Linked DNA regions of Homo sapiens. The protein of the gene in region 3 interacts with the protein of the main gene of each other region in a pairwise test. Each region holds a gene or a part of one and is shown on either strand. Other genes may lie near its edges.

Region 1 (7,107 bases), on a different chromosome or scaffold from region 3:
ATATGCTAAGAAACTAAATTATAGAGCAGCATTCCTTTTAGGAAGTATTTAAATTGTCCCTAGATGGATGTAATGAAATGTGTTCAATTACATCTAGGTTCTAAAAGTCTTGATATTTATTTTCTTAGAATAATCAGTCAGATACACACCTCTTCTCATTTTCTCCCCTTTGTTTCTCTATTTACAGTAAGCTCTGACTTCCAGATTTGATTTTGACCTCAAAATGCCAGTAATCTGCCCCCACACACAGTGCTTTCAGGGAGGAAACAAACAGTCCAAAGCCTTGTGTATAACAGTCACACTGTTACTTTTATTTCCACATCTGGCAATGACAGCTCCAGAACAATGTGGAAAAGCAATCCACAGAGGGGAAAAAGAAATTTTCTATACAAAGTCTAAATTCTTCTGAAAGATGAAACAAACACTAAAACAATTTATTTAATGATAAACATTTAAGCTTTTAAATAAAAAAAATACTCAATATAACACTTACTCAATCAAGAGAAGCTATTGTGCTAACTTTGACCTCTACCTCCCCCTAGTCCCTCAAAAAAAGCTATGGAGTTAAAAAAAACTTCTACTCAGATAACCAAATTTATTTATCAAATGGTAAATAAAAATGTTATGGATCGGGTAAACATTACTTTCACATTTGGAGAACATATGAAGTTTTATTTGCATTTAGTTCATTTTTTAATAAAATAACTGATTCTATATGAAGTATGTAATTTGAATTTCACATAAGACTTTTTAAATTGGTAGATATTATTTTTTCTGTTTTACAGAACTGAGTAGAAAATGCACAAAACTCCTCTTTCCCTACTTCCAACCTCCTCCACACTTTCTCTTATTAATATCTGTATTAATAATATTATTAGAAAATATAACATCAAGTATTATTAGTATTGGTGTGGTTTATTTGTAACAACTGATGAGTGAATATTGATACATTATTATTAGCTAAAGTCCATAATTTACATTAGGGTTTATTCATTGTGTTACATAGTTCACGGGTTTTGACAAATATATCATGACATGTATCTACCATTACAGTATCATACACAATTGTTTCATTGCCCTAAAAATTCCTTGTGCTTCACCTACTCATTCTTTCCTCCCCCAGAACCCATAGCAACCACTGTTCTTTTTACTGTCTCCATAGTTTTGCCTTTTGATAGTATTATATAGTTGGAATTATACAGTATGTAGCCTTTTCAGACTGGTTTCCTTCACTCAGCAATATGCATCTAAGGTTCTTCCATGTCTTTTGGTAGCTTGATAGCTCATTTCTTTTTATTGCTAAATAGTACTCCACAGTATGGCTGTACCACAGCTTTTTTAATCCATTTACCTACTGAAGGACATCTTAGTTGTTTCCAAGCTTTGGCAATTATAAATAAACTCATAGGTTCTTGTCGGGATGTAAGTTTCTAACTCATTAAAACTCAATAAAATTTAATTCATTATAACTCATTTGGGTAAATACCAAGGGGCACAATTGCGGGATCATATAGTAAGACTATTTAAGGTAATATTTTTTAGTTAAGAGCTTTGTGAGAAACCACTGAACTGTCTTCCAAAGTGACTATACCATTTTGCATTCCCACCAGCAGCAGATGGGGGTTCTTGTTACTCCACATCCTCACCAACATTTGGGCTTGACAGTGTTCTGGATTTTGGCCGTTCTAATAGGTATCTAGTGGTATCTCCTTGCTGTTTTAATTTGCAATTCTTTAATGACATATGTTGTTGAGCATCTTTTCACATGCTTATTTGCCATCTCTATTATCTTCTTTGGGGAAGTACCTGTTCAGATCCTTTGCCCATTTTTCAATTGGATTGTTTGCTTTCCCATTGTTGAGCTTTAAGAGTTACCTGTATATTTGTAAACCAGTCCTTTATTGTTTTGCTAATATTTTCTCCCAGTCTGTGGTTTGTTTTTCATTCTTAAGATATTAACATTTTAAACCAAGGATATATTGTATAGAAATCCATTCTCATTATTTGGGGTGGTATCATAACTATTGCAACTTTAAGTGTTTTCAAGTATTTTACAGTAAAAACAAAAACAAGTCACAGGAAAAGTAAATGTTTTTAGACTGGAGATCTTAATTAGGCTAGTTTAAAGAGACTAACTAAATGAACGACTATAAATTAAGATCCCAGAAATTTCCAAAATGACAATGTAATCAACAGATGTTGGAGTCTTAACAATATAGACCCAATGTTTTATCACTCAGTTGTCCTCCACAGAACAAGACAATCCACCTATAAAGGAATCGTATTATTTGGGGGTGTTAACAGCAAGGAACCTTGGATCTTAACTTTCCTCAACTTGGTCAGTCAGGCCTAGAAAGATGAACATGACCCTTGTGTGACTTCAGCAGCACCAAGCTGGATTCCTGTCTTTTTTTCCACCCTCCACAGTAAGTGGCTCTGCGGCATTTCTCAAGAGAAAGAAAAGTGAAGATTTTCATCAGGTGAATGATTGCAACTTGTGACTAACCCCTTGAATGATAGTTGAGGTCAAAACTCTGACACTCAAGAGAAAGAGGTGGGGTCATAAGTGTAGCTTTGAGGCTATAAAGATTATAGCAGGCATTCTGTTCAGAGTCCTTGCACCTGCAGGCTGACCTGTGACAAGACAAGCTAAACAAAGATCTTTTATCACCTGAATTCAAAAGGTAAATGCAACTCAATTCTTAGAGTTCTTAAACCCATAGGCAATGATTCTATGATAAGCCTGTAAGTCTGCATTACCAAATCAATATATGACCAGATGATGCTGTTAGTCAAATGATTTAACATAGTCCTAAAAATATATCCCTAGCTTATTACTATCCATCTGTTTGGCTGGTGCTCTCTCACAAACCAAGTAAATTACCTGCATCATTCACATATAAAAATACTACCCAGCCTCCAGCAACAATTTATGCTTACCTTTTCCCTCCTAAAAATTAAAATAAAATTAAATTTAATCATTCTCTTAATCAGACACTATTATTCCTAGGGAGATTAACTTTAAAAGTATATTTTACAAGTATATATTAATGAATATATAAAAAATATAAAATGCAGAGTTATAAAACTTAATTTCAAGACTGGCAATTTTTTAGTGAAGAGTCACAGGGAATAAAATTTAAATGAGTAGCAATGACTAATGCAGTTTTCAGAGGAGGCTATAATTTCTGGAAATGTTCTACTGGTTTAAACTGTGGGATAGTAAGTGCTCAGTTCTAAACCGGACTTTTTATATATTTTAATTTAAAAATAATTAAAGTCAATGAAATGGATGACAAAAATTTGCTACCTTAGGAAATATCATTAGATTTGAATTATTTGTTGTGGTAATAAATCACATGATATCCTCATTAATATAAACATTTATTTTTTAAAAGCAAGTTTTTAATGCAATAGTCTTTATGTATGTATGTATATTCCTACCTTCTATTTTATTTCATTGATTTTAGAGGTCCCAAGCAAACTAAACCATGATGAACTTATCTAGATCAATTGCTAAAAGTATTTCTATAAAAAAAAAACAAAAACTGCTTTGAACTACTTCCTTTTTATTCTTTTTATGTCAAAAAGAACTTACCTTTTAAAAACTATAACAAAGTTGAGTTTTGTTCTGTAAAAATCTGTGAATCTACAAATAAAGATTCTTGATAGACACTAAGGGGTTAAACAAACTCTGTTGTTGCAAGGAGGCAGGAAGCTGTCAGCATTTCATGCTGCTGCCACAGGCAATGCCCAAGGCCTGGGTCAAGGTTGGAGAACTTAGCCTTACTTTTCCCACCCTTCCCTCGGTAACACATTACCAAGAGCAGCACAGCTACAGGTCAATTTTCCTGTGTATGACAAATGACTATTTGCAACTTTACGATCTAGTTCTGCAAGTAAAAACAACATGCAGAAAATTCTAGACATACAGACCTTGCCCATCTTAAACTCTTCAAGAAATTCCTTTCTCTAATTCCAAGGTAAGGCCTTTCCTTACCCCCCTGTTTTGCATTAGCTTTTATATTTCTGGTAGGTTATTTCCTTAAACATCTGAAGACAAGCTATTATCTATGTGGTAACAGCACACGCATTTTAAGAGGGCATAAGTCCAATATATCAATAAGGAAAATTTGAAGTATATTTGAAGCAACTACTACAGAGGACCTATCGAGTGCACACCATCTGTATTCGGGGTTCATAGTGACCTAGTAAATGCTGATACAATTGCACCACTTGTCCATAGCCACCATCTCTTCTGAATGACTGAGCACCTGTTCTGATTAGTTGGTGTCTCTGTCATACCACTGAATAAATATTTTGTGTATCATGTCTGTATGCAACCTGAAAGAGGAGCACTTACCTTCATTTTTCCACTGTATTTAGGGTCAGAAAGTGTTTCAAAGGCTGCATCTTTGCTTTTCTGCACAAAATCTGGGAATCTGGAAAATACCTGATCACATATCCTTTTGATAAGTGTTTCCTTGAAGGGAAAAGGCAGAAGAAAAGATATTTCCACTTAACACATTCAAACCTGTATAAATTGAAATAATTTATGAAAAAAATTCTTTTTAGAAAGAATGTATTACTTTAAAGATTTTTGCTTCCCTAAGTCAGACTAAGAATTCAAAAACTCTTAAAGTTATATGTTAAACGTATGGCACTGAATTCTTAATGATGTGGTTATTAACTTGATCATTACTTTTCAATTTTTTAAGATTTCCAAAACAAGGTGCTAAATACTCCCAAAGAGTAAAGAGTACTATCAAAGAACAATATCAAATTCTTATGAGATTTCAAAATTACATTTAAATGGCATCAACTATAACAGAAAAAAATATAAAATCATTACAAAAACATCTTTTCATTTATGTGTGCTCTAGAATAAAAGGAAACAACCAAAGTAAACTTTGAAATTACTGATTTTTGCCAGTTTGGTAAACAGCCCTAATATTTAATATACAAATTATTATAAATCCTCATTTTACCCAGTAGATTAAATACCATTACAGACATTATTAGAGGAATAGAACTGACCCATCAAATATGTTATTTAGTAATTATACCAAAGACTGTTTTGAAAAATAAAGATATGAACATTATTAAAGGCATAAAAGATAGTTCTTATTTTAAATTAAGCTTAAATTTGTTCACTTTGATTAAAAACTTAAGTGCACATACTCCTTGATATCTACATTTAAAAATAAGCAAATCAGTTTCCTCTTAAATTTCATCCACAAAAACTTTATTTAATAACTATTTTAAAACTTTATAAAATATTCACAACAATAGCATCACAAAGAAATGTAAAATGCTAACCAAACCTGTTGTTTGGAAGTACTAGCAGCTTGCAGTAGCGCGACATGGTTAGCTACCTTCTGAAGGACTGTAAGGTAACTGAGATACAAGGTTTTCACTGTTTCACCATGAGAATTGGTCTGTAACCAGAAAAATATAGAAAATAAAAAGGACCAGCATAGCTATGCACCTGCTTACATCATAAAATGTATCACTTACAATAACATTTATTATCGGGTTACTTTGGCACAATAAATTCCAAGAAAATGATGGTCAACTATTGCACAAAATATCCACAAATAGCTAATGTGGAAGCATACTTTTGGTAAATCATAATACAACTATATTTTTCATAAAGGGAGAAAATCCTTATTACAGAAAGTATTTATCCTCATGACACACAGTGATGGAAATGTTGCTGTTACGAGGTGCCTGGTAACAAAATCTAAGTGCAGTGGCAGTGCTATGCAGACCCCTTCTCATTTATGCTCCAAGGCTCCTAGGAAACTGGGCTATTACAAAAAAGGGAAGTAGTTAAAAACAGCAAAATAAATGAGACCAAATAAATATCAAACTAGATAAATATTCACTTAGGGTTTCTCTACGTACACAGATATGTGACATAATTTAATAAAACAGAGGTGAAACATGAGCAGGAAATATAAACAAAAGGTTAGAAAAAGTACAAATAAATTTTGTTTCTTTAAAAAAAACACTTTCTTTGATACTCAGTTTCTATTAAATTGACACTATATCTAACATCAGAATAGTATTTTAAGCCTCCTATACAAGAGTATGTTCGTTTACTATTAGTGGATAATGAGAAACTTCTTGAAAATGAAATGAAATTTCAAAATGAAAGGATACTTCCCAAGAAAAGCTAAAATGGAGGATATCAAAATTAAGCTTACTTTCTGCAATTAACTTTTTGAAAATATATTTGAATATTGTATTTTATATGTGATTACTATTTGATATTGTAAAATATTTTTGAAAACTATTTTTTAAGACATAGCTTTAAAGAACTGTCTGAGGAAAAGGTATTTTATCATCTGCTACTTTCTTTTACACTAGAAGAGAGTACTATGTAATCAAAAGCATGATTATAAAGATATATTGAAATGCTTGCCTTATAACAACAATTTCTCCTTTTTTGGCCACTCCTACAGGTACAAGGCTCAGAAGATTGAAGTATCAAAGTCACGTCCTCTGTTTCTAACACTGTTTGATAGACAGCTTTCTGGAAATCTGTCAAAGAACAATACACCATCTGCCAAGATAAAATACAAGGTAGTTATTAGTATTTTGTTTATAACAATAATAAAAATCATAATCTACATCTGATTTCATAGATTATAACAGTGAAAACTGGCCGGGCGCAGAGGCTCACGCCTGTAATCCCAATACTTTGGGAAGCCAAGGAGGGCGGATCACAAGGTCAAGAGATAAAGACCATCCTGGCCAACATGGTGAAACCTCATCTCTACTAAAAATACAAAAATTAGCTGGGCGTGGTGCCACGCGCCTGTAGTCCCAGCTACTCAGGAGGCTGAGGCAGGAGAATCGCTTGAACCAAGGAGTCAGAGGTTGCAGTGAGCTGAGATCACGCCACTGCACTACAGCCTGGGCGACAGAGCGAGACTCTGTCTCAAAAAAAATAGTGAAAATTGCTATAAACTAATTTTTCCCTCTATTTACATCATTATGATGATTTCTACTGACTGTCTTATATTCTTTGCTCTCCACCCCACCCTGGATAATATAAAGTATAATTTCACTTTCAAATAAACCTCATAGAATTTTTTTAAT
Region 2 (7,107 bases), 3.7 Mb from region 3:
AATTTGGGTCATTTACAAATGTGGAAGCAAAAGCTGAGACATTAGGTAACTTGCTTAAGGTTAACTAAGGACTGAAATAGACTCCGGAGAGCTAGAACAGTGGTTCTCAATCCCAGCCGCATATTAGAATCCTCTAGGAGAGAGAAAGTTGGGGGAGGAGTAAAAGGGACATGGGAAAAAGAATGGGAAGGAGGGAAAAGGAAGAAAGTGAGAGAGGCAGAGATGAGGGGAAAAAAAAACAGAAAAAAAGAGAATAATTTCCATTTCACTCTAATGTGCTAACAGAGTCACTGAGGTTCCTCAATTCCAAGTATAACTGCAACAGTTTTAGGTGGGAAATTTTTCCAAGTAATTCTAACCAGATGCTCAACCCTGCCATAAAAATCCTCAGTAAACAAGCCTTTGAACAATGCAACTCACAGGAACATTGTCAAAATTAACCACTTGGAAAATATACACCTAGACAAAGAAGTGGTATTGTTAAAACTTAGATCAAGACACTGATATTAAACCTTTGAATAATCTATTTTATTCAGAAAAAAAATCCAAACTCCTTGCATTTGTAACAAGGCACTAAATACTCTGACTCTTATCTCCGTAGCTCTAACCTAGTTTCATACCAACTTTTCCAATCCTCAATACGTACCAGTCCCACTATTTCTGAACATCCCAGGTTCCTTCCTGCTTTGGGAACTCTGTACTTGTTCTTCTCTCAGTTCTTCACATGGTTCTTCCTAATTCTCTACTTTTCATCTTAAATCTTAAAGATTACCTCCTCAAAGATGGTTTCCCAACCTACTCTGTTTAAATGAGACTTCCCTTGTTATTCATTATCACGGCATCCAGTGTATTTTATTCACAGTACTTAGAACACAACTGCAGGTCTCTCTCCACTAGAATGTGAGTCCTCTAAGGGAAAGGATCTTATCCTCCAGGTCCATAGATGAATCCCAAGTGCCTAAAATAATCTTGGGCCTACAGAAGACAATGAACTAAGTGGGGAGGGAAGGAGGAAGGGAGAGGGACAAACTTAGATGCTAGTAGATGGTCAACAAATATTATTAATGAATTTATTTGCATTGTGGGAAAATTCAATTGTGTAAACCAATTACACACTGAACACACACAGTAAAAAATGGTGATTTTGATTTTAGAAAAATTGATTATAGCAGTAATCAAACAATGAATCCATTTGTCTTTTCTAATAACATCTCCAGTTCACATTAATAAAACCACAATAATGGAAAAAATCCCACAATTTAATGTAAATTTTAAAATAGAATACAAACTTGTATCAACTTTTATACAATAAATAAGTTTTAAAAAGACTAGACAGAAATATATCAAAATTTTAACAAGTTATCTCTGGACAGTTTGACATATTTTCTTTTTTGCATCTTATTTTTCAAATTCTCTACAATGAGCATATTTTTACTTTTATGACCACAACAAAATTAAATAAAAAGAATAATTGCCACACTGCTCTAAAGCTAGCCATAACCATGATTGAAGAATAATTGTCGATACTGTACATTACTACATAATTTTAACTCATTAAAAAATTGTTTTGAATGACAGTCATTAAAGCCTACTTGTCATGGTGAATTTTTATTTTACTAGTTCTCTGTCACTATCACGCATTGCCACTTTTTTTTCTTTTTTGAGACAGAGTCTCGCTCTGTCGCCCAGGGTGGAGTGCAGTGGCGTGATATCGGCTCACTGCAAGCTCCACCTCCCGGGTTCACGCCATTCTCCTGCCTCAGCCTCCCGAGTAGCTGGGACTACAGGCGCCCGCCACCACGCCCAGCTAATTTTTTGTATTTTTAGTATAGATGGGGTTTCACCACGTTAGCCAGGATGGTCTCGATCTCCTGACCTCGTGATCCACCTGTCTTGGCCTCCCAAACTGCTGGGATTACAGGTGTAAGCCACCTCACGTGGCCGCCACTTTTTTCTTTTAATCTTGGGCAGTAGTTTAGCATGGCAGAAACACCTTCCTTGCACTCAAACTTCTAAATCCCAGCTCTGTCATTACGTAGTTGTGTAACTGTTTTCATCTTGTACATTAGAATAATACCACCAATTAAAGATATTCTGGTATATGGTAGGGTCTAAATAAAGAGTAGTAATTATTATCCATGGGAATACATTACCTACTAGCTAGATTATAAGCACTTTGAGAGACTGTGATTGCCTTGTATCCACTGTGTCCGTAGTCTAGCACTGAGTCAGCATGCCATAATTTTCAACATATTGTCATATCAATTACTATCTTCACTACCTTTTTCAGGGAGACCCATCTTAGGATTGTAGAAGGAGTATTACCTCTCTCCTGCTATTTTATTTTTATTTTATAGAGATGAGGGCTAACTATGCTGCCCAGGCTAGTCTCAAACTCCTGGGCTCAAGCAGTCCTCTCACCTTAGCCTCCCAAAGTGCTGGGATTAAAGACATGAGCCACTGCGCCTGACCCTCCTAGTTATTTTAATGGTAAGTTAGAATAACTCTTAAAAGCCAGAGAAAGTCAAATATTAAATCATATAGCTCTACACTCTCCTATGGCAACAGTAAATAAATGAGTAAATAAGACAATTTTAGATAGGGTAAATAATGTTATTACCTATTCAGGTCCATATTTCTAAATCACATGCTAAGCTGCTATTTTAGACATTACCTACTAATTTCCTGTTGTAATAGACGAAGATGTTTACTACACTTACACTATCTTCCCACTATATTTCATCCCAATTTTTGGTTAAACTGGCTGTAGTTCTGCATTATGATTAGGGAAATACTGCTTACTGTAAAGCCAAGAAATTTACTGTGATAATGTCTCCTTTTTTATAAAAAGTTTCGCTTTTCCTGTTGTGTCCCTATCCTTCGTTTTTTACATTAGATGCTATTTATACTCATCAACAGATTTTTCTTCCAAATGCTTAACATATCTATTGAGTCTACTTTTATCTGGAAACCTCCTTTTTGTAGAGACAGGGTCTTGCTTTGTTGCTCAGGCTGGTCCTAAACTCCTAGATTCAAGCAATCCTCCCATGTCCGTCTCTGGACTAGCTGGAATTACAGGCATATGCGACTGTGCCTTGCCTATCTTTTGTTTTTTTGTTTGTTTGTTTTAAAACAAGTTTTTCTTCTTAAATGTGAACAAATATTTTAATTTAAAAATATTTTTGTTGTTTTTGTTTTAAAGGAAGCTTGTATTAATCAATAAAATATCCAGAAACAATGTCTGTGAAACAAGTGCTTTTATCCACATTTGGCAAAAGAGCCAATAATAAAAACACCAATCTATAAGCAACAGCTAAAAAGAAAAGCAGCTGATTTAATTTCTCACTCTATTGTTCAAATTAGCATTTTAAACCATTGCACCTTAATTAAAGCCACTCTTTTAGGTACAATAATCACAGGCAAAGCAACTACTATGTAGGGTAACTATAAATGATCAAAACAGGACACTTTTGAAAATGAATGGAGCACTATTAATAATTATGCCAGGGCAATATGCATAATCTAAGCAAACCAGCCATTCCACTACTAATAACCTCCTAGATGCTGAGCTTTTAAACTTACAAGGTGTTACCAATCCCATGAAGTTCCCCCCTTAAGACACACACCCTACTATGCTAGTGCCTAATATAAAGATCACTACAGTGAAAATAGAAGATGAAAAAAATTAGCAAACACAGAATAAAAAGTTTTTAAGATATTGATTCTTCCTACCCCGCCCCCCAACAAGCACACACACAATTCATTTAGAAATTCACATATTTTCTGCTTGAAGGAAATAGTAATTCCCATATTTAAAAATAGATAGAACTGAATAAGCTGGTAGAATTTTCTTTCTCTTACTTGGAATTACTCAATTAAAGAAATAAAGAAAGGGTGAAAAATGATTAGAAAGAAAAGAGAATGAACTGCAGTTTTCTACCTAAAGTAGTTAAGACATGAGAGAAGAAATCACTCAATGCCCTTACCCATCCCAGAGTCTTTCTTGGTGCCATCTGATATTATGTCTACATGATCAGAGTCCACATCATAACTAAAGAAATCATTCAAATAGGTCTTTGATCGCTGGCCACCAAATACATATAAGCAACGATTTTTCTGAAAAAGAAGAAAAAAAAAAAGAAAGGAGTAACTTATCACTTCCATGAAGAACTCAGAATGATCCTTTAAAAACTTAAACCTCTACAAAAGTAATTTTATAACAGATCCCAATGGAGTACTATGCTGGAATAAAAGGGAAAGAGGAAGCTCTCTACATATTGCTAAAAGGGGATCTCTAGGACATCCTGTTAAAGAAGAAAAGCAAGGTGCAGAATAATATATACAGGTTCCTTCTTCCTTTGTGTAGGAATGGAGAAGAAGGAATATCTGTGCATCAGACAAAAAGAGAGGGAGAGAGGGAAAGAGAATGTGAGAGAGGGGAAAAGTGAGAGAGAGAGCACGCAAGCGAGAGCGAGAATAGAGATTGCTTCTTTTTTTGAAAAACAAAGGAAGGATAAACCAAAACCTAATAAAAGACAGTTACCTATAGTGGCAGGAACAGAGCAGGAAGACCTCTCCAAAAATAATACCTTGATGTATGGTTTTGACTTTAGAACAATGTATATGCTTTTATTTAATTAGAAGACAAAATTAACTCAAAAAAAAAATCTAAAATTTGGGCAAAAAAAATCCAACAAATAAACCTATCTGTATATAAAGATATACTCAGACACAGAAATAGTATTTCTAATGATTTTAATACATACTTTTTGACTACCCATCCCTAGAAGTCTAAATCCTAAACAGAAAAATAATCAGAAAGCAACGTTAAACAGCACTCAGTGATTCTGTTGTTAGTTTTCTTTACTGTGAAAGCTATTATAGACAGACAAAGCAACTAATGTTATGAAGCAGGATTTTAACCTTAAAAGACACAAAAATAGGCCAGGCATGGTGGCTCACACCTGTAGTCCTAGCATTTGGGCAGGCCAAGGTGAGAGGATTGCTTGAGACAGCCTGGGCAACACAGCAAGGCCCTGTCTCCTACTTCCACTTCCACTTCCACTTCTACTACTACTACTACTACTACTACTACTACTACTACTACTACTACTACTACTACTACTTCTTCTACTACTACTACTACTACTACTACTACTACTACTACTACTCAAAACCCAGGTGTGGTGGTACACACCTGTAGTTTTAGCTACTTGGGGGGCTAAGGTGAGAGGATCATTTGAGCCCTGACATTCAAGGCTGTAGTGAGCTACGATCTGCGCTCCAGTCGGGGTAAAAAGAAAAGATATAAAGTTACAAAATAGAAGACATTAAGATAAAAAATATTTTATTTGAATCAGACATATCAGTATGAATTCACAATTTAATTTTTCTCTTACAAAAAAAGATACATAAATATGTTGTGGGGGGTGCTCCTACTAGCCAAAGAGAAAAATTTGAGCATCAAGAAAGTGGCCAGGTACAGTGGCTCATGCCTGTAATCCCAACACCGCAGAAGGCAGAGGCGGGTGGATCACCTGAGGTCAGGAGTTCAAGACCAGCCTGGCCAACATGGTGAAACCCTGTCTTTACTAAATACAAAAAATTAGCCGGGCGTGGTGGTGCATGCCTGTAATCCCAGCTACTTGGGAGGCTGGGACTACAGGCACAGGTCACCACGCCAGGCTAATTTTTGTATTTTTACTGGGGATGGGGTTTCGCCATGTTGGCCAGGCTCGTCTCAAACTTCTGGAATCAAGTGATCCACTGCTCCTGACCATTGCTGATACATTTAAATTCTAATTCTATAAAATCAAATCTTAAATTCTTTGTACTTAATGGAGAATAGCAGAAGGGAAAATAAGAACAGAGTAAGAAATTGTCCTTCTAATTACTAAGAGACGTAAGTGGAAAGGCATAAGAAAGGAACATAGCTACAAAATCTACATAAGCAGTGAAATTAGTCATAAGATTGCCCAGGTTGGTAGCCAGGTAGTAACTATTTAGGAATTACCAGGTTGATGGGAAGAGTCTCATAATTAGCAAACAGTTCACTGTTAAAGAAGTTTTGTCTTTCTCTGTCATTGCTACACTAATCTCTTCCTAAAGAATTAGATTTCACCACTTCTTTTCCTATCTAGATATACATGACAAAATAACATTTACGCAATGTACGGAATGTTCTTACTGAGTGGAATAACATGCAGTGTCCTATTCGAGACTGGATGTCCTCAGGCCCAGCATTACAGGAGTCCTCTCGAAGAAGTTTCCAGGTTTGACATTGACAGTTGAAAGCAAACAAGCCACTGAATTGTGGTTCACTGGCTCTGCTGTCATCTACGCTGCCATTACAAGTCAAAATTCTACCACCAAAAGTGTAGATCATATGTTTTTCTGAGTCCATACACATCTATCAGAACAAGGCAACAGATTGAATAGTTTTAGTTTGTTCCTGTCATATGTGCTAAAACAAAACCAACATGTACAGTTTTACATTCTCAAAAAAACCCTAAACTTTGTCCCTAATGACACTAAATACCACCCCTGATTATCATATGCAAGTTTCTAAATAATTTTTCAAGTTGTCATTTTTGTCAGTGAGGGTAAAAACATGTTGGAATAAAGAGCTTTCTGCTTTCTTGAAATTGCATAATTTTTATCAAAATCAACCAATGATACATGAGGCGTTGATTTATATGTAAGAGTGAATACTTATATTCTGGGTGAATAGTGATCATACCCTCCTTATAAAAATTCCCTTCTTTCATTCTAGGCAAGCATCCTATTAATATTACTACCATTTACTAAGCGATCAGATATGCAAATAAGAGTGGTGAAGCTAAATTCACCTCTCTGCATTTATTTTTATAAAACCCTTCAGATTATGTTACAAAACAGTAAAACAAACAAACAAAAGGACATTTACAACAATCAAGTCTCCAGACTGACTTCTACAATGTGAAGAACTCTGCCTACTTTTAACATAGCACTATTTAATTTTCTTTGAATTAAGCTATACACTTCATGTTTAAAAGTCAAGCTTTATTCTTCCATTCTTTCAACTCAAGATTATAACTTTTCATAAAAATGTGTGAGAAAACAGCCATT
Region 3 (8,040 bases):
TCTCTCTTACTGACGGTGACCAAGGGTCTAGCCTCTGCCCATGCAGAGTTTCTGGTCATGAGTAAGAGGCTTGTCTGACTTTACCTCAATCAGGATTCCCAGAGCAACATCAACTATCTCAGCCTCATTCATGCAGTACACAGTCCTTGTCGCAGGGAGTCTGAAAAAAAGACATGCAAGGCACAGATGACACAGACTCTCAAGTCTCATAAGGGCAAAGAGAACAGGAGAAGCAGGGCCTCTTCCCCCTGCCTTCCTACCACGCAGGAGGTACCAGCACCTCTGAGCTGAGGAGCTTTCTGACACGGACACAATTTCCTCAGCCTTGCAGCCCAGTGACTGGCACAGGGCTTCATGGAGGCAACACCGGGGTGCCTCCCACCCTCCACCAACTGCCCTACAAGGATCTGGAAGTAGGGAAGGATGGCCGCCTCTGAAACACACACATGGATGCAAGAGGAAGGGAACCTCGGGCTGAGGCTGTACTGAGAGGAACCTGAAAGCAGGACCAGACTTAGGGAAAGACGGCAGCAGTCACAAGGGAAGGCTGTCAGTCAGGAAACCTTAGAGGAGGAGGAGCCAGAGAGGGAAACACCGAGTGCTGGGGCCCCGCCCACTTCACAGTGCAGCCTGGAGACTCACCACCCCCCCCCCGCCCCCCCCCGGCAATTACCGTCATTCAACTAACTCACTCCCCAGCTCCTTAGCTCTTGCTGGCCCTGCAGCTGCTGCTCATCTGTCCATCCCTAAAGGTCTGTCCACAGGGGCAGGCACCACTCAGAACAGACCCTTCCACTGATCTTGCCCATCTGATGTTACCATGTTTGTTGTAAAGGAAGAGACTGGCATTCTGGACAACTGGCATCAGAGACTGGCTGACATGGAGAACCCACTCTGTGTGTGCTGAGGGCAGGGCACTCACCAGTGCAGAGGCAGAAGTGGGTGCCTGTCCTCGAGGGTTAACCCGCTTTGCCTCCCGCCCACAGCCCCTCCACCTTCTAAAAGCTCAAGAGATGATCAGACTGAAACACCCGCCCATCTTGCTGTTCTGCCTAGGCTGGAAGACCTGGCCCAGGTCATGGAGGCCCCTGCTCCACTTGCCAGATTCGCAGGAGTCTTCTGACCAGAGCTGTCGCACCTTGCTGCTGCCACTGGCACTGCTGCCATTCTCATCCTCTTGGGGGCCTTCATTGGTGCCACATTCTTTGTAGCCACCTGGGCTGTCAGCCATGAGGGAAGGACCCTCGTTTTAGTCTCGGATTGTAAGGTTTCCATCTCTGTACCTTCTCACAAAGAAGAGTCAGGGCCCAAGCTTAATGACCTGTTTTTTAATTCAGGAAGGTAAATCTCGTTCTCTCGTCACACCCGGAATTACAGGTCCATTTGTCCTCAGTGGGAGTTGATCTTTGATTCCTACAAAGAACAATAAAGTCCGGTGAATTCCCATACCTCCAGTCATCAGGCACAGTTACTGGTCGGTGCAGGGCAGGCCAGAAGTGACCAAGGCCCAAGAGACTCAGACGGCCATTCACAGGCATCAGGCAGGTGTGATTGTGGGCAGGACAGCAGCTCAGGAGAGAGCCCTCTGACCTCCCCAAAGCTGGTGCCCCCTACAGGCAGCCAAAGCCAACCAGAGATACCTCCTGCAGCCTCTGTGCTGACTGACTCAGCACAGGAGGAACGGAAGGAGGCGGAGGCCCCTAATGTTCCTTCTCATTACCACCCCAAATGCCACTGTCCTCTGGGTGCCCAGCCCATTCAATCCCTAAAATACCTCTTAATGGCCTCTCCCTCATCTGGCCAACTCGATTTCTCTACTCTTCTATGGTGGCTCAGTTAAATGAAACTGAGGGCATTTTATTTCACAATAAAGTCTCATTGGCCAACACGCCGCCCTTAAGCTAAAGATACTTCTGATTGGTCAAACTTGAAGCAGCAATAGGGGCCCGGAGGCATTAACTGTGCCAGTCTGTAGATTCTGAAGCCCACGCCAGCCTCTGATCTAGTTTGGCCTCTCTTTTCCCTATCCCAATTGTTCTGCCTCCACTCAGCAGTCCTGGAGCTCAGTCCTCACCCAGAGAGATGGAGTTGTGACTCAGAGGGCCTAGGTCTCTACCTTCCACTTAGGAATCAAGCCAGAAGCTCCTGAAGCGGAGGTTTGCCCAAAAAAAAGAGTAGTCAGCGATAGTCCTCTCTGAATCATAATTTGATAATGCATTGCTCATCCAGATGGCTGTTTACAATTTAAGAAAAAATATTACCAGGCCCTCCTCCTAACCTGCCCGGCCATGGGGCACACCTTTGCCAATGCACCTTCATTTCTGTCAAAACTCAGTGATATTAGTGACTCCTACCCCCTAAGGCGCCTCCCAAGCGCAATGCTGCAGTCTGTGCGGACAAATTTAGTTCACCCTGGGGTGCCTATTAAGTACATTTCGCAAACGAGGAACTGAGACTTAGTTAACTTGCAGAAGATCACAGAAAAGTTTGAAATCAGCTGGTTGGATTCGCAGCCAGGTCCTGCAGACTCCAGACCCCGCGCCTCCCCGCCCTACTTCTGGGCCCCAAGAGCAGGCCGCGGCAACTTCCAGAAGCCGGGTCTCTGGGGCACCGCGCTCGCGGACCGACCTCAGTCCCATCCCAGCCGCTCCCTGCCTGGGCAGAATGGGGGCCCCGCGGGAACGCGATGTGCTGCCAGTTCACAGCCCGCCCTCCCTCTGCGGGCCGGTACCCGCCGCTGGCGGCGCCGACCTGTGGGAGGCCCAGAGGGCGGGTGAGTGCGGAGCGGAAGGCGCGGGCGAAGCACCGCAGGGGCCTCGCTGACCCCGCCACACGCCGGGCAGGGCTGCAACGGCTCCTTCCGACTGGAGCGGCCGCGCGCTCCTCCGGCCGGCTACTGGCTTCCCTGCTCTCAGGTTCCCGTCTCCGGCTCTCGTGCCCCTTCTTAGCTTCCAGAGCGGAGCCGGGAGGCAAATTCCAAGCGGTTGTGGGACCCACGCCTCACCCGGAACTTTAAGCCCTGCCGTCTCGCCTGGCGCCCAAACTCTGCGGACCTCCACTGGCCGCCCGCCTCTTCCGGCCCCGCGCGCTCCGGGGTCCCGCGGGCTCCCGGCCTCGGGACACTTCCGGTCTTGGGGAACTCCCGGCCCCCTCGCAGTCCCGGCGCCCGGGACACTTCCGGCTCCCGGCAGCTGCCTCAGTCGGAGGTCCGCGGGCGCCCCATGCTGGCAGTGGTAATGCCGCCGGCTGGCATCCGGTTGGCTGCGCGCTGGGAACGCCAGCGAGGCAGCGCCACCGGCTTGAGGAGGGTGAAAGTTCAATTCTTGGCCCCTGAAGTTAGCGGAAGGGAACGGGCATGTTTTGGAAAGGCCCGCCGGGAATTCCCTCAGAAACCAGGCGAAGCTCCCTGCTGGGCCAGGCCCCCCTCGTGTGCTTGAGGAGGATGGGAGCCCGGCCTCGGTTTGTTATCCTAATTAAGTGGAAAATTAAGAAAATAATAGAATAGCGTAAGTACTAATAGTAAAATTATAGTAAGAGAAATAACAATAGCTAGAATGGAATGAATTGCTGTATTAACCAAGGCTAGAAAGAATTTCAGCCCTCCGAAAGTTAAAGCGAGGGAAGAGAGAGACCCTCTCATATTGTTTTATACTCAGTACCTGTTTTTTTTTTTTTTTTTAAAAAAAAAAGGAAGTGAAATCAAAGACAGGCAGCCCAGCGCCAGGCCCAAAACTGGACCTGGGCCTGCCTGGCCTAAACCTAGTAGTTAAAAATCAACTCATGACTTAGAAACCGATGTTATTCATAGATTCCAGACATTCTATAGAAGAACATTGTGAAACTCCCTGCCCTGTTCTGTTTCTCCCTGACCATCGGTGCATGCAGCCCCTGTCACGTACCCCTTGCTTGCTCAAATCAATCACGACCCTTTCATGTGAAATTTTAGTGTTGTGAGCTCTTAAAAGCGACAGAAATTGTGCACTCGGGGAGCTCGGATTTTAAGGCAGTAGCTTGCCAATGCTCCCAGCTGAATAAAGCCCTTTCTTCTACAGCTCCGTGTCTGAGAGGTTTTGTCTGTGGCTTGTCCTGCTACAGTCCTTGGTTCCCTGACCAGGAAGCGAGGTGACTGACAAGCCCTGTGGAGCGTCCCTGCAGAGGACTCCGGCCAGCCTGACTGACGCAATCCAAAGAGCGCTCCCGGGTAGGAAATGGCCCCGGTGGAATGCCTTGCCAGAGCAGCGCATAGCAGGCTCCCGAGAAGGATTAACACTGGCTGAACACCGGGAAGGAACTGGCACTTGAAGTCCAGACATCTGAAGCTTGTCAAGACTAGTTTTTGGAACTTGCCCCACTCCATGTGAGTGGAAGCATGGCCTGATCACCCACGGTGTGCCTGTATTGACATCTTTGTTCTGGTTTTGACTTGGCTTGACTTGGTAAGACTAGTCTTTGGAACTTGCCCCACTCCACGTGAGTGGAAGCGTGGCCTGATCACCCACGGTGTGCCTGTATTGGCACTTTTGTTCTGGTTTTGACTTGGCTTGACTTGGTAAGACTAGTCTTTGGAACTTGCCCCACTCCATCTGAGTGGAAACGTGGCCTGATCACCCACAGCATGCCTGCATGGGCACTCTTGTTCTGGTTTTGACTTGACTTGAATTGCTGGATACTTTGGTTTTGGTTTTGACTTGGCTTGAATTTTTTGGTACTCGGATTTTGAATTTCGTGATTTTGGTTTGGTATAAACGGTAAAAGTGTGTGTGCCCTCTTTACCTGTTCTTTGTCTTGTGGTATGTGTGGTGTGAGCGTGGTATTTTGTCTGGAAAAAAAAAAAAAAAAACATGGGTCAGGTGCAAAGTAAGCCCACCCCACTGGGACCTATGTTAAAAAAATTTTTTTTCAAGAGAGAATTTAAAGGAGATTACGGTGTTAGTATGACACCAGGAAAACTTAGAACTTTGTGTGAAATAGACTGGCTAGCATTAGAGGTAGGTTGGCCACCAGAAGGAAGCCTGGACAGGTCCCTTGTTTCAAAGGTATGGCACAAGGTAACCTGTAAGCCAAAGCACCCAGACCGGTTTCTGTACATAGACAGTTACAGCTGGTTTTAGACCCCCTTTCCCCCACCACAGTAGTTAAGAGAACAGCAGCATAAGCGGCTGGCAGAGCCAAGGAACGACCAGAAAAGAGAAAAAGAGGCCATCTGTACCAATTCTAAGAGTTTAGACTAAACAAGTTCTTATTAATAGCAAAGGATAATTGAAATCTCAAACTTACAAGGTTTTCAACAAAAGTGAAGTTTGCTAAAAGTTAACAGTGTAACATGTATTTTGGTAACTTCTAATCTTGTGGCCTTAGACAGTCTAGTCCAAAGACATAAAGAAAGTTCGCTTTTTTAAAAAGGAAAGAAAAGGGGGGAGGCAGAATTTATATTAAAAAAAAGTTATATGGTAAATTCTTGTCCTGAAATAAATTAACTGGTTGTTTAAAGAAAAAAAAGTTTGTTAATCAGTCAAAAAATTGAGACATGTTAAAAAATTGTCTGGGAAAGTCGTGAGAAAAAAATTATAAAAAAAAATTTTTATGCAAAAAATATTGTATAATTTAAAAGTAATGAGGCCTCCTGAGTACTATTTAAAAAAAAAAAACCAGTTCATGTGCAAGATGTATAAGAAAAGTAAAATATACCTTTGGTAAAAAAAAAAATTATAAAGGGGCATAAACGTGGATTTTTACCTACATTAAAAGGTTAAAAAAATTATTGTTTTAAAAGTTTAAGCAAGCTTTAAAACGTTAATTATAAAAAAAATTCTGTGTGTAAACATATTAGCTAAGGTTAAAAAGGTATCATCCAGTTTTTCTGTGAACTGGACATTAAAGTAAAAATGCAAGAGGTTTTTCTTAAAGCATCAACCTGCTCTTTAACAAAAATTATAAAAGGTTAAAAAGAGTCTATAAAATCTTACCTTATGGTCAAACATAAAAAATTGGATAAATATGTCTACAAGGTTTTATTAAAATTAAGTTTAACATTAATAACACACTAATATAAAGGTAAAATTTAGCTTATCTGGTATAAAAGTCATACAGGAAGCATTAGTAAATATAAAATAGTGTTTAGCTTTCTTTTGTCTAAAAACTAATAAAAATTGGTGCTAAAGGAAGCATTCATTTTACTAGAGGATCATAAAAGTTAAAGACTTAAAACAAACTTTGGCAATTAAGACAGCATACCAAGATGCAAATGCCTGGTTGAAATGGATCAAATATTCCATCTGCAGGTTAAACAAAAGCAATTAGCATGCTTGTGCACATGGCAGGCCAGAGGCCCTGATTGTCCCCCTTCCACTAAGGTGGTCCTCCAGTCGGCCAGGCATGGGCTGCATGGTAGCTCTTTTCCAGGATTCTATAGCCTGGAGTAATAAGTCATGCCAAGCTCTCTCTGCTATATCCCAAAGTCCCTGCAGGTCAGCCCCCGAGGGCCATCCAGCTTCCATCTCCCAACACTAAGTTCACTACGTGTCTCTCATGGCAGGGAGGAGACTTAGCATTCCTTGGAGACCTGAAGGGATGCAGTGAGCTTAAGAATTTTCAAGAGCTTATCAATCAGTCAGCCCTTGTTCATCCCAAAGCGGATGTGTGGTGGTATTGTGGTAGACCTTTATTGGGGACTCTGCCGAGTAACTAGAGTGGCACTTGTGCTTTAGTCCATTTGGCTATCCCTTTCACCCTGACATTTCATCAACAAGAGGAAAAAATAATAATAAGAAGAAGACATCATAAAGCGAGAAAAGCTCCTTATAGGTCTTTCAACTCTCACATCTATTTAGATGCAATTGAAGCCCCGCAAGGAGTCCCAGATCAATTTAAAGCTTGAAATCAAATAGTTACAGGATTTAAGTCAATATTTTGGTAGATGACAGTCAATAAAAATGTAGATTAGATAAACTACATCTATTACAACCAACAGCAACGAGCTTTTCATGAGTTAAAAAGAAAAACTCATGTCGGCCCCAGCCCTGAGGCTACCTGACCTGACAAAACTCTTTACGCTCTATGTGTCAGAAACAAAAAAAATGGCAGTTAGAGTTTTAACCCAGACTGTAGGGCCCTGGCCAAGGCCAGTGGCCTATCTCTCAAAACAACTAGATGGGGTTTCCAAAGGCTGGCCCCCATGTCCAAGGGCCCTGGTAGCAACGGCCCTGTCACAAGAAGCAGATAAGCTAACTCTTACACAAAACCTAAACATAAACTCCCCCCATGCTGTGGTGATTTTAATAAATACCAAAGGACACCATGCTAGATGAATGCTAGACTAACTAGATGCCAAAGCTAGCTCTGTGAAAATCCCCACATAACCATTGACGTTTGCACACCCTAAACCCTGCCACCTTCCTCCTGGTATCAGAGAGCCCAGTTAACCATATCTGGACTCAGTTTATTCTAGTAGGCCCAACCACCGAGACCACCCTTAAACATCAGTAGGCTGGGAGCTGTACATGGATGGGAGCAGCTTCGCCAACCCCTGCAAAGTGACTCTGAAGAAGACGACAAGCCCTGCTCCAGTCACACCTGGAAGCTGACTGGTCCACGCACGGCTGAAACATGAGGAAACTCATCACAGACTCATTTTCCTTAAAATTTGGACTTGAACGGTAAGGACTTCAACTGACCTTCCTCAGACTGAGAACTGTTTCCAGTATATACATCAAGTCACTAAGGTAGGACAAAAGATTGCTACAGTCCTATTATTTTATGGTTATTATAAGTGTACCAGGACTCTAAAAGAAACTTGTTTGTATAATGCTATTCTATCCAAGGTATGTAGCCCAGGAAATAACCAACCTGATGCGCGTTATGACCCATTTTAAGCCTCCCATGATCACAGTTTTTAAAATAAAATTAAGGACTGGTCCTTTTCTAGGTGACACAAGTAAGGTAATAGCTAGAACAGAAGAAAGAGGGGTCCCCAAAAATGTAACCTTAAAATTTGATGCTTGTGCCGCTATTAATAGTAAACAGCATGGGATAGAATGCGGT

What was found.
Region 1: the proteins of CYREN (region 3) and ERCC6L2 interact in binary tests that used the Homo sapiens proteins (3 or more experiments, as listed by UniProt).
Region 2: the proteins of CYREN (region 3) and MKLN1 interact in binary tests that used the Homo sapiens proteins (3 or more experiments, as listed by UniProt).

What each region holds. Positions count from the first base shown.
Region 1 is NC_000009.12:95,920,636-95,927,742, reverse strand, and holds part of ERCC6L2 (DNA excision repair protein ERCC-6-like 2), read right to left. Parts: intron 6,569-7,107; coding exon 6,428-6,568; intron 5,439-6,427; coding exon 5,325-5,438; intron 4,484-5,324; coding exon 4,364-4,483; intron 1-4,363. UniProt on the Homo sapiens protein: Promotes double-strand break (DSB) end-joining and facilitates programmed recombination by controlling how DNA ends are joined in a spatially oriented manner during repair.
Region 2 is NC_000007.14:131,442,783-131,449,889, reverse strand, and holds part of MKLN1 (muskelin), read right to left. Parts: intron 6,410-7,107; coding exon 6,188-6,409; intron 4,117-6,187; coding exon 3,987-4,116; intron 1-3,986. UniProt on the Homo sapiens protein: Component of the CTLH E3 ubiquitin-protein ligase complex that selectively accepts ubiquitin from UBE2H and mediates ubiquitination and subsequent proteasomal degradation of the transcription factor HBP1.
Region 3 is NC_000007.14:135,167,648-135,175,687, forward strand, and holds the start of CYREN (cell cycle regulator of non-homologous end joining), read right to left. Parts: upstream 3,061-8,040; 5' UTR 3,005-3,060; exon of another isoform or gene 2,629-3,004; intron 1,828-2,628; exon of another isoform or gene 1,775-1,827; intron 1,414-1,774; 5' UTR 1,276-1,413; coding exon 1,139-1,275; coding exon of another isoform or gene 1,102-1,138; intron 161-1,101; coding exon 85-160; exon of another isoform or gene 1-84. UniProt on the Homo sapiens protein: Cell-cycle-specific regulator of classical non-homologous end joining (NHEJ) of DNA double-strand break (DSB) repair, which can act both as an activator or inhibitor of NHEJ, depending on the cell cycle phase.